Linked DNA regions of Homo sapiens: region 1 is linked to region 2. The links come from fine-mapping of genetic effects on gene expression. Tissue or cell type: whole blood. Region 2 holds a variant in brackets; the other region holds the start of a gene. All regions are shown on one strand. Distances are from middle to middle. Region 1 holds the start of LINC02656 (long intergenic non-protein coding RNA 2656). Region 2 overlaps LOC124902370 (a long non-coding RNA gene).

What was found.
Region 1: it holds the start of LINC02656, and the variant in region 2 is fine-mapped to the expression of LINC02656 in whole blood (TOPMed, PIP 0.97).

Annotation. Positions count from the first base shown.
Region 1 is chr10:6,347,091-6,352,410 of GRCh38, forward strand. It overlaps LINC02656 (long intergenic non-protein coding RNA 2656), which reads left to right and starts at 3,226. Exons shown (of 1, transcript NR_148966.1): 1 at 3,226-5,320. RefSeq lists a cis regulatory region at 920-1,420.
Region 2 is chr10:6,394,603-6,399,984 of GRCh38, forward strand. LOC124902370 (a long non-coding RNA gene) reads right to left here. Exons shown (of 2, transcript XR_007062044.1): 2 at 3,727-5,382. It also overlaps a transcript of PRKCQ not described here. Among named protein-coding and RNA genes, the nearest start is that of LINC02656, 47 kb to the left of the region's middle. The variant A/C (reference allele first, on the strand shown) is at 2,288.

The DNA of each region.
Region 1 (5,320 bases), 48 kb before region 2:
CTCGCTGTCACCCAGGCTGGAATGCAGTAGTGCAATCATGGCTCACTGCAGCCTTGACCTCCTGGGCCCAAGTGATCCTCCCACCTCAGCCTTCCAAGTAGCTGGGACTACAGGCATGCAACACCATGCCCAGCTAATTTTTAAAATTTTGTTGTAGAGACAGGATATTGCTATACTGCCCAGTCTTGTTTCCAACTCCTGGCCTCAAGTGATCCTCCCCCGTCAGCCTCCCAAGGCATAAGTTACTGGTGTGAGCCGCTGCGCTGGCCTATATTATATGTTTTTGCTGCTTCTGTTGGGGAAGAATTTGGTGTTTTATCTGAGAGAGATGACAGGAACCTTGGCCAGATGCCACCCCCAGAAACTCAGTGTCCTTCTGTTGGTAGCTGCTTGCCTCTTTGCTGCCCCTATCAGAGCAGAGTTGTTCATTTGCTTCTCTGAGCACATCTTGTGTGGAGTCTCGGGCCCCAGACAGCAGGGCTGCAAATGACACACTCAGCTGCAAGGCAGCAGTGATCTGTGGACGAGATTCAAATCCAGAGAAAAAAACGGAAGCCTCGAACTGCATCTGAAAACCAGCGAGAAAGAAGCAAATTCCTGTGAAATGGCACAGGCATCATTTCAGCGTTGACTCATTCTGCTCAAACCTGTCACCGCTCACACGGGAGTGGTCGTTGGAATAAGGGACTTCTCCTCAGGTGAATGACAAAGAAACACAGATTTGGATTTGCCCAGGTGTCTGGAGAGGAGGCTGCCCCTGGATGCCGTGCCCCACTGTGCAGAAAGGGGATGCCCGGGGCATTGTCACCGCAGCGAGTCTGCACCTACCATCCTCTGGCCCCTTTCTGCCACCTCTGCAGCATCTCCAATTAAATTTTAAAAAAGTAAAAGTGGGGACAAGAATCATCTGCCTGCCTGTGTTTGGCCCTCCTTCCAAGTTTTTGTGTTCTGTTTGAAATCAAACTTATGCTTTCTTCCAAAATGAATGACAGAGAAAAAAGAAAAAGCCACCCAGGCTTGAAAAGTGGTAGCTTCTTGCCGCCGACTTCCTGCCGGTGCCAAGTCAGAGGGAGCTCTGCGTGTCCTCAGTTCACCCTCGCCAGGCCACACCGCATGCAAATAAGAAGCTGTTTCAGTGTGTGCCCATCTGAGACGCTGACATAAAAAAGGAAGAAAGAAAGGAAAAAAACCACCGTCACCACCAACAAAAAAACCCAAAACTGATTAATTCTCGTAGATTGCAGCAGAGCAGGGGGCCTGGTGGTGACACATCCTGTTTTGCTGTTCAAGTTGTCATCCCCCAAGCCAATAAGCTCCCTCATGAACGGCACCAGTTATGAAGGGTGACAAAGAATTCAAAACACTCACAGGACAATTTTCCTAACCCTTGGTCTCTCGGAATGCTATTTTTTAGGCTAATTTGTTTTGATGAGAAAACTATGCCTGCTAGGCCTATTTTTAAGCCAGATTTGAAGTCAACGCAGTTGGTATTTGATCTTGCAAGAACGACAGAGGTGTCAGCAGCAGCTCTGCCATTTAAGAGCTGTAGCCTGGTGGGACACCGTCCTGCAACCAGGGCCCTAGCACAAGAAGTATCTCTGTTGTTATTTGCTTCTCTTCTTTGAGATCCATACTTGATTTGAAAAATCACCACTTGAGCGGCACCTGGTGATTACGTAACCATTCAACTCTGTGTTTTATCCTAGGGCTAGGTAAGAAATTGAAAATCCAGCCTGAAATAATTAGTTTAGCTGCAGACAGGGTGTATTAAACAGACTCAATTTAATAGAGCTAGAACCATAAGATGAATGTATTTATCTTCAATCAAAGATGACATGTTGGACAGATTCCTTCATTCATCACTTTTCTGTTATGTTTAGCCCTAAGGGAAGTCTTTTTTAGATACGTAAGATGCACCTTCAGGGTTAAAGCATCTAGTCCAGTCTGAATAAAACATCAAAAGCACCTACAATCCCAAGCTCCTTCAAGAACTTTGCAGGCAGTCTTCGGGTGAGTTTGGTAAGACTATTAATCGGAGTAATGAAATAAAGTATTATCACATCTATTTATTTTTCTCATTTTCTTTTAACTTCTCTTTTGTGTATGTTCTAAAATACACATAATTTTCAGTTCATAGGGCATTTTCCCCTTGTAAGTAAATATGAATATATTTCAGAGTGAGCTCAAAGTTTTACGTTAGATTTAGGTAGGCATTTTTTTTTTTTTTTTTTAAGATGGAGTTTCACTCTGTCACCCAGGCTGGAGTGCGGTGGCTCGATCTTGGCTCACTGCAACCTCCGCCTCCTGGGTTCAAGCGATTCTCCTGCCTCAGCCTCCTGAGTAGCTGGGATTACGGGCACCCACCACCACACCCGGCTTATTTTTGAATTTTTAGTAGAGCTAGGGTTTCACCATGTTGGCCAGGCTGGTCTAGAGCCCCTGACCTCAGGTGATCCACCCACCTCGGCTTCCCAAAGTGCTGGGATTACAGGCGTGAGCCGACAAGGTAGGCAAAAGTTAAAAACAAAAAAACAAAAAAACAAAAAAAAATTTGGAATAGTCTGTAACAGAGGAGGGCTTGAAGAGAAGTGAGGTGATTTGCAGAAGCATCAGCCAGGAGGCATTCCTCCAGGAGAAAAATTTTTACTTAAAGGAGAGAGCTTAGTGATGGAGAAGGAAAAGATCTCGACAGACATTCAAGATTAGAATCATAAGTTGGCCATTGATTGGGTGTGGCTCTGGGAAGTGGAGGTGCTGTGGGCAGGGGCTGGCTTGGGCAATGAGAAAATGGTGTTGCTTATGTGCCCACTCTGTGCTGGGACTCAGCTGTGAGTGCCTCCAAATTCACCACATTTATCAAACCTCAGTGCTCTGAGACAGCATATGATGGCCTAGCAGGATGTCCATTCTTTTCCTGGAACCACCCATCCAGTTATCTCCTTGAGTCGCCTGGGTGGTGAAAAGTGGTCTCATGCACAATGGATGCGGTGTGATCCCCTTGCTATGTCACGCATGGCGTCTGCCCTCTTCCCTGGCACCTGTGCCACTCCAGGTTATGCCTGTGCTGCTGCCCATTCTACGCCCACCTGGAAAGCCTGAAACCTTCTCGTGCCTTCTACTGCAGCTGGGGAGCTTCTTCCACGTCTCATAGCCAGCTTCTCCAGAGGGAACTCCCAGAGCTGACTGTACTTTCCTACCTCAGCCTCTTCTTCCTGGGATGGTGTCAAAATATGAACAGATACAGCTTCATGCTTTCAGGAAACCACCTTCTCTTCCATCTTCTCCTTTGGCCTGCTCAGACAGCCAGACTTCTTAAACATATTTTTCCTACAGGCTCATGCAAATTAAGGGATGTGGCTGAGCATCTCCTTCAGTGCCCTCAAACAGGTCATGAATGTTGCAAAGCCCAGAATCGTGCTAACCTGGTAGAAGGCTGGTTTAGCCAGAACACACAGAGAGGACCTTCTCATGATGGTGTGGCTGAATTCCACATGTCACTAACAGTATCTTGCCCTGACCCGACTCCAAGTACTGATCCCCAAGGAAGGCATAATAGAGAGCCCATCTTGGGGAGGGATGATGACTTCATGTGCAAACAAGTCAAATTCAGGATGTGTGTTGTGGGCAGAGATGGCAATGCCCAGTCATCTGTTAGGTATACAGGTCCGCTGTACAGGAGAAAAATCAGAACAGAATTTCTATTTGTAGTGTTTCTTTTAGAGACTAGGGAATTGAAACCACAGGTGAATAAGAATGTACAAGGAACCAGGCCTTCTTGAAGAAATAGCTGAACCAGATTGGTGTCAGGAGCTGTACAAGGGGATCCAAGAATGTCTTGTCATACAAGCCGGACAGCTATTAAAGACAACTGAGGTCATGGCAAAAGGGCCCAGGCTTCTACTGGCCAACAATGAGACAATTTGAGCATCCCAAAGAATAATGACTTTAGTGGACTGAAACACATCAACATGTATACATCCATGAATTCATAATACTCAAAACGGTAAAACCAAACTCATTTGTTACCTTTGGAGGAGTCTGTCACCTCTGATTATTCTGAAAACTGGTAAATAGAAGGGGAAAATTCAAGCATTTATTCTGCTTTTCTTGTATAAACTGTACCTCACAGTTACGGAAGAGCTGATAAGGGAAATGTCTTCTTTATTGAAAAATTCAGCTGATACATTTGGAAGGAATGAGAGAATTACAGTACCACCATTAGGTGACAATGAGGGTCTGGTTTTTTATTTTTCTTTTGCTGAGTGCTGGGAACATAGTGATAACAAAAAAAGCCATAGTGTTCTGGCCCTTCTGGAGTTTTGATTCTAGCACATTAACCAAATAATCCCAGAGCAAAAATAAAATGTCAACTATGGTAAGTGTAGAGAAGGGAAAATACACAGAACTTTTAACAGCTTAGATCCGAGGAAGCTGACCAGCCTGCAAAAAGGGACAGCTTCCCTAGGGAAGTGACTTTGCAGCTGTGATGATGGATGACTAAGAGTTAACCAAGGAATGGGAGGAGGGAGGAGGAGACAGAGAAGGCTTTCCAAGCAGAAGCCAGAGCATGTGCAAAGATCCTGTGGCAAGAAGGAGCCTGGTGCAGGGGAGGAACGAAGAGACATGCAAGCTGGCTGGAGTGCAGAGAGGGAGACAGGCAGGCAGGCAGGTGGTTGGATGGGGAGGCAAGGATCAGATCCTGAGTCCCTTGGAGAAGCAGGAAGGCATCATGATGACTAATGTCAGAGGCAGGGGAGGACAGGTAGGGATAGACAGGGAAGCAGTGCTGGGAAGATGCTAAAATGCTGCAGTTTGTGCTTGGAAAGATCATGGCCTGGTTCTTCCATTGTCATGATGGGTTGTTCTCTTTCTTATTGTTTTTCTAATTTGTCTTGACTAATGGAGAAGATCAGGAGCTCAAAAATAGAGGTTGTTTACAGCACTCAGTTTGGCTGCTATAGGTTAATGGGCTTAGACTCTTTAAGGGGATTAGGCTTTTGCTCAGAGACCAGTGGAGTATTCTAGCCAGGCTGTCTTGTGAAGGTGGTATGTTAAGAACTAGGTTTGTCTGATTTCTCAAATTAAAATGTGGTACATCAAATTAAATTTGAATTTCAGATAAATAACAACTAATTTCAGATGTGTCAGATAAAGAATGGATATGGCTCTAGTACAATATGGGATAATGAATATTTTCAGATAAATAGATGCCCTGTATTCTGTGTAGCAAGCATAACTAGAGAATCAATGTTAGTGCTCAAACTAAGAAGACTTTTGAGAAATTATCAGAGGTAAATACAAATATACATTTCCATCCATC
Region 2 (5,382 bases):
ATACGTGTTGTAAATACATACGCCAAATCGTCAGACGTGCAGTCCACGGTGGGTCAGCTGTTGAACTGATGAATTCAGCCCAGCAACTGACTGAGAAAAGGGCAAGTTACAGTTGAAAACCCAGGAGGAGAAAGAAAATCCATGCTGCTCGCAAGAAGCAGGGCCATTTTATAATCTATTTTCTCAAAAACAAATAGTGATTGTGTCAAATAAGAATGGTTGAGAGGAATAGCTTGATACTGTTCTTCCACACATACATCATTCACTCCTTCTCTTCATGACTCTTCCCTGAAGGTCTTCCTTGTGCCGGAACGGTGCGACCTTTGCTGTTACTGTAACCATCCAGTGGGTTCACCTTGCCCGCCGCCTAGAGGGAGCCGATTTATCAAGACGGGGGAATTGCAATAGAGAACAAATAATTTACACAGAGCCAGCTGTGCAGGAAGCTGGAGTCTTTTTTTTTTTTTTTTTTTTTTTTGAGACGGAGTCTCGCTCTGTCTCCCAGGCTGGAGTGCAGTGGCTGTGATCTCGGCTCACTGCAAGCTCCGCCTCCCGGGTTCACGCCATTCTCCCGCTTCAGCCTCCCGAGTAGCTGGGACTACAGGTGCCTGCCACCGTGCCCGGCTAATTTTTTGTACTTTTAGTAGAGACGGGGTTTTCACCGTGTTAGCCAGGATGGTCTCGATCTCCTGACCTCGTGATCCGCTCACCTCGGTCTCCCAAAGGGCTGGGATTACAGGCGTGAACCAGCGCGCCCGGCCGGCTGGAGTTTTATTATTACTCAAGCCAGTCTCCCTGAGCATTCAGGGATCAGAGTTTTTAAGAATAATTTGGTAAATGGGGAGAAGGCTCCTGAGGAGGTACCAGCTGATCCATCAAGTGCAGGATCTGCAAAATATCTCAAGCCCTGATCTTAGGAGCAGCTTAGGGAGGGTCAGAATCCCGTAGCCTCCAATTGCGTGACTCCTAAACCATAATTTCTAATCTTGTGGCTAATTTCTTAGCTCTACAAAGGCAGTCTAGTCCCCAGGTAAGAAGGAGGTTTGTTTTGGGAAAGGGGTATTATCGTCTTTGTTTTAAACTATAAACTAAGTCCCTCCCAAAGTTAGCTCAGCCCAGGAATAAACAAGGACAGCTTGGAGGTTAGAAGCAAGGCGGAGTCAGGTCAGATCTCTTTCACTGTCTCAGTCATTATTTTGCAATGGCGGTTTCATTACCAACATTGCCGAGGTCCTGACCGTCAGTGCCCTGTACTGAGTATATTTTTCAGAGGCCAACCTTTTCCTTCTCTGCTCCCACTCTATTTAGCTCTCGTGACGGGTCTGAATACACCATTGTAGCGTTCCCTCAGTTTTCCCCATCAGTAAGATGCAGGAAGACTTAATGGAATCCTCAAGCAGTGAGACTTCCTAGCTCCAGGGACTGAAAAACATTAGTAGATATTAAAACTTCCCAATAGCAAATGGCGATCGATAATGATATCATCTCTGTCCTGGGAACTTAGATGCTACTATTATCATAGTTAAATAGATAATAAATGTAAAAAGTCACCCCTAAGTACTAGACTCCAGCATTTAATTCCCCTTGCCATTTGCTAGATGTTAGAAACTTGGCTAAAACTAAGGCTTTTTTTGCCCTCAAGAGTTGATGTTTTTACTAAAACAAGTTTTATTGAGATACAATACAATTCACACAGCGTAACATTTACCCTTTTAAAGTATACAATTCAATGCTTTTCATATATTTACAGAGTTGTGTAACTGCCATCACAGTCATATTTCAGGACATTTTCATTACTCCGCAAAGAGCCTCCGTACCCATAGAGGTCACTCCCCAGTCTCCCCATGTCAAGCCCTAGGCAAACACTAATTTACTTTCTGTCTCGATAGATTTGCTTCCATTAGATATTTCACATGAGTGGAATCATATACTACATGGTCTTTTGTGACTTGCTTCTTCCAGTTAGCTTAATGTTCTTGAGGCTGACTTATATTATACCATGTAAGAGCACCTGATTCCTTTTTATTGCTGAGTAGCGTTCTGTTGTGTGAGTATGGCACTACATTTGTCTATCCATTCATCAGTTGATGCACATTTGGGTTGTTCATACCTTTTGGCTATTATGAATCATGTTGCAGCGAAGCTTGGTGCACATGTCTTTGACTAGGACATATGTTTTCACTTCTCTTGGATATATAACTAGGAGAGGAACTGCTAGGTCATATGGTAACCATGTGTTGAAAATTTAACTGCCAAACTATTTTTCAAATGCATTGCAACATTTTAC[A/C]TTCCCAGCAGCACTGTATGTTGGTTAATTTCCCCACATCCTTGTCAACACATGCGATTGCCCATCTTTTTTACTGTAGGCATCCTAGGGAGCGAAGTGCCAACTCATTGTGGTTTTATTTGCATTTCTCTAATGACTAACGATGTTGACCATCTTTGTATGTGTTTAATGGCCATTTGCACATGTTCTTTAGAAAAATGTCTATTCAAATTATTTGCCTGTTTTTTTTTTGAGTCTCACTTTGTTGCCCAGGCTGGAGTGCAGTGGCATGATCTCAGCCCACTGCAAGTTCTGCCTCCCGGGTTCAAGTGATTCTCTTGCGTCAGCCTCCCGAGTAGCTGGGATTACAGGCATGCGCCAACTTGCCCATCTAATTTTGTATTTGTAGTAGAGACGGGGTTTCACCTGTTGGCCAAGCTGGTCTCGAACTCCTGACATCAGGCAATCCGCCCTCTTGGCCCCTCAAAGTGCTGAGATTACAGGCATGAGCCACCATGTCCGACCCCTTTGCCTATTTTTAAATTGAATTTTTGTCATCATATTGTAGAGTTGTAATATTTATATATTTTGTATACTATTGCATTATCAGATATATTATTTGCAAATATTTTCTCCTAGTCTCTTGGCTGTCTCTTCACTTCCTTGATAGTGTTGTTTAAAGTGCAGACATTGTTTATTTTGATGAAAGTCCAATTTATCAACTTTTACCTCTAGCTTCCATATTTGTGATATTGTATCTAAGATACCCTTGCTGGCTGGGTGCGGTGGCTCATGCCTGTAATCCCAGCACTTTGGGAGGCCAAGGTGGGTGGATCACCTGAGGTCAGAGTTTGAGACCAGCCTGGCCAATGTGGTGAACCCTCATCTCTACTAAAAGTACAAAAAATTAGGCGGGCACAGCAGTGGGCACCTGTAATCCCAGCTACTCGGGAGGCTGAGGCAGGAGAATCGCTTGAACCTGGGAGATGGAGGTTGTAGTGAGCTGAGATCGTGCCATTGCACTCCAGCCTAGGCAACAAGCACGAGACTCCGTCTAAAAAAAAAAGAAAGAAAGAAATCCTTGCCTAACCCAAAGTCAAGATTTATCCCTATGTTTTATTTTAAGAATCTCATAAGTGTTACTTCTTACATTTAAGTCTATCATCCATTTTGAGCTGCTTTTTGTGCATGGTGTGAGATTGGGGTTCAAGCTCATTCTTTTGAATGTAGATATTCAGCTGTTCTTAGCATCATTTGTTGAAAATCCTATTTTTTCTCCTTTGCATTCCCTTGGCACCTTTGTTGAAAGTCGATGACCATAAATGTATAGGCTTATTTATGTATGAACTCTGTATTCTATTCCATTGATTTTCATGTCTAGTCTTACGCCAGTACCACAATATCTTGATTGCTGTCACTGTGTAGTAAGTTTTGAAATTAAGAAGTGTAAGTCTTCCAACTTAGTTCTTCAAAAGATGATATTTATTTTAAAATAAAGGGCTGTTTGTCATATAATTTGACTGTGTGTTGGAAAATACTTTTAGATTTTGAGAGGCTTGCATAAGTTAGTCAATATTCTTTCATGGAGGAAAAAAGCTTTCTGTGCCCAGCTGTTCAACAACAGGAAAATTCTATAATATGTTTTCTCATTCATTTGGAGTGGGCATGTGAGTCAGCCTTTGGTTGGTTGTTGAAACCTTCTTGAAGAGCCTTATTTCAGAAGTTTGATTTGCTCAATGGACGTTTACCCATCATTTCCTCCATGTCATGGCCTGTGCTAGATGCTGGGAGAGAGAGAGAAAGGAGACACAATTGCTTTCAGGATGCTCACAGTAGAGCAAGGAACGAGTCACAATTTTAGAGCTGAATTTTTCTTTTTCTTTTTTTTTCTCTTTTCTTTTTTGAGACACAGTCTGGCTCTGTCACCCAGGCTGGAGTGCAGTGGCGCAATTACAGCTCACTGCAACCTCTACCTCCTGGGCTCAAGCCATCCTCCCACCTTAGCTTCCCGAGTATCTAGGACCACAGGTGCAAGCCACCACACCCAACTAATTAAAAAAAAATTTTATAGAGTTTTCTGTAGGATTTCACCATGTTGCCCAGGCTGGTCTCGAACTTCTGAACTCAAGCAATCTGCCTGCCTCAGCCTCCCAAAGTGCTGAGATTACAGGCATATCAATACAATGATACAATGATACAATGGCTGAGCCACTGCACCCAGCCATTAAAGCTGAATTTCTGGAGACTGTCAATGTAAACTCCCTTGCTTTGTAGATATGAAAAGGCAGCCTAGAGAATGACAGCTTTGGGTGAAAGCCATAGTGTCCCCACAAGTAAATAATGGTGAGCAGAGTGCCTTGCATATAGTAGGTCCTCGATAAATATTCACCGTGATTTACTTACTAGATGGTATGTAAGCTAGTGGTTGGAATATTTAAACATAAACACACAGACTCAGAATGTTGAGAATGTGCTCAATTCCTTTCTGCAGTGAGTTTTAAATTTAAAGATTCCTTTGTGCTCCCTGCCTAGCCTGGAGCTATTGCTGCGCTCTTGGCAACATCCACCCGGCTGAGCCCAGCAGCCCTTGCCCTGGAGACAGAAATTGCCCCCTTTTTTTTTTCCTTCTTTTTATTTTTTTTTGGCACAGGGTGTGTTGAGACAGGTTGAATAGCCACCCTGGAGTTTTGCCAGAGCCACAAGATGAGGAAGGTCAAGAGGCAGAAGAGAGCAGGGTGAGGAGATGGGGGTGGAGGAGAGGAAGTTTGACATCATGTGGCTTGAATGGCTCAAAATGCTGAAATGCCAGCATTAGTTCAAGCAATTTAGACTTTCAGGAAGCCTGGCCTTTCCCCCTAGAGTCGTTTGTTTAGTCCTGTCTGGTGGGCTTGGCTGGCGGATTCCACAAACTCATGATGAAAAAGTTCTCCAGGCAGAACAGAGATGTGGCCTCCATTCCTACAGGGTAGACAATCAATTCCAAGGGCCCAGCATCTCCTATGAACCCAAGGTCACTCAGATCAAGTCCCCAGGGTGGCAAATGTCTGGCATCAATCGGGGGTTGGGGGGGCGGACACTGAGTTTAGTTCAAGGAAGTATTGCCAGATTTTGTGTGT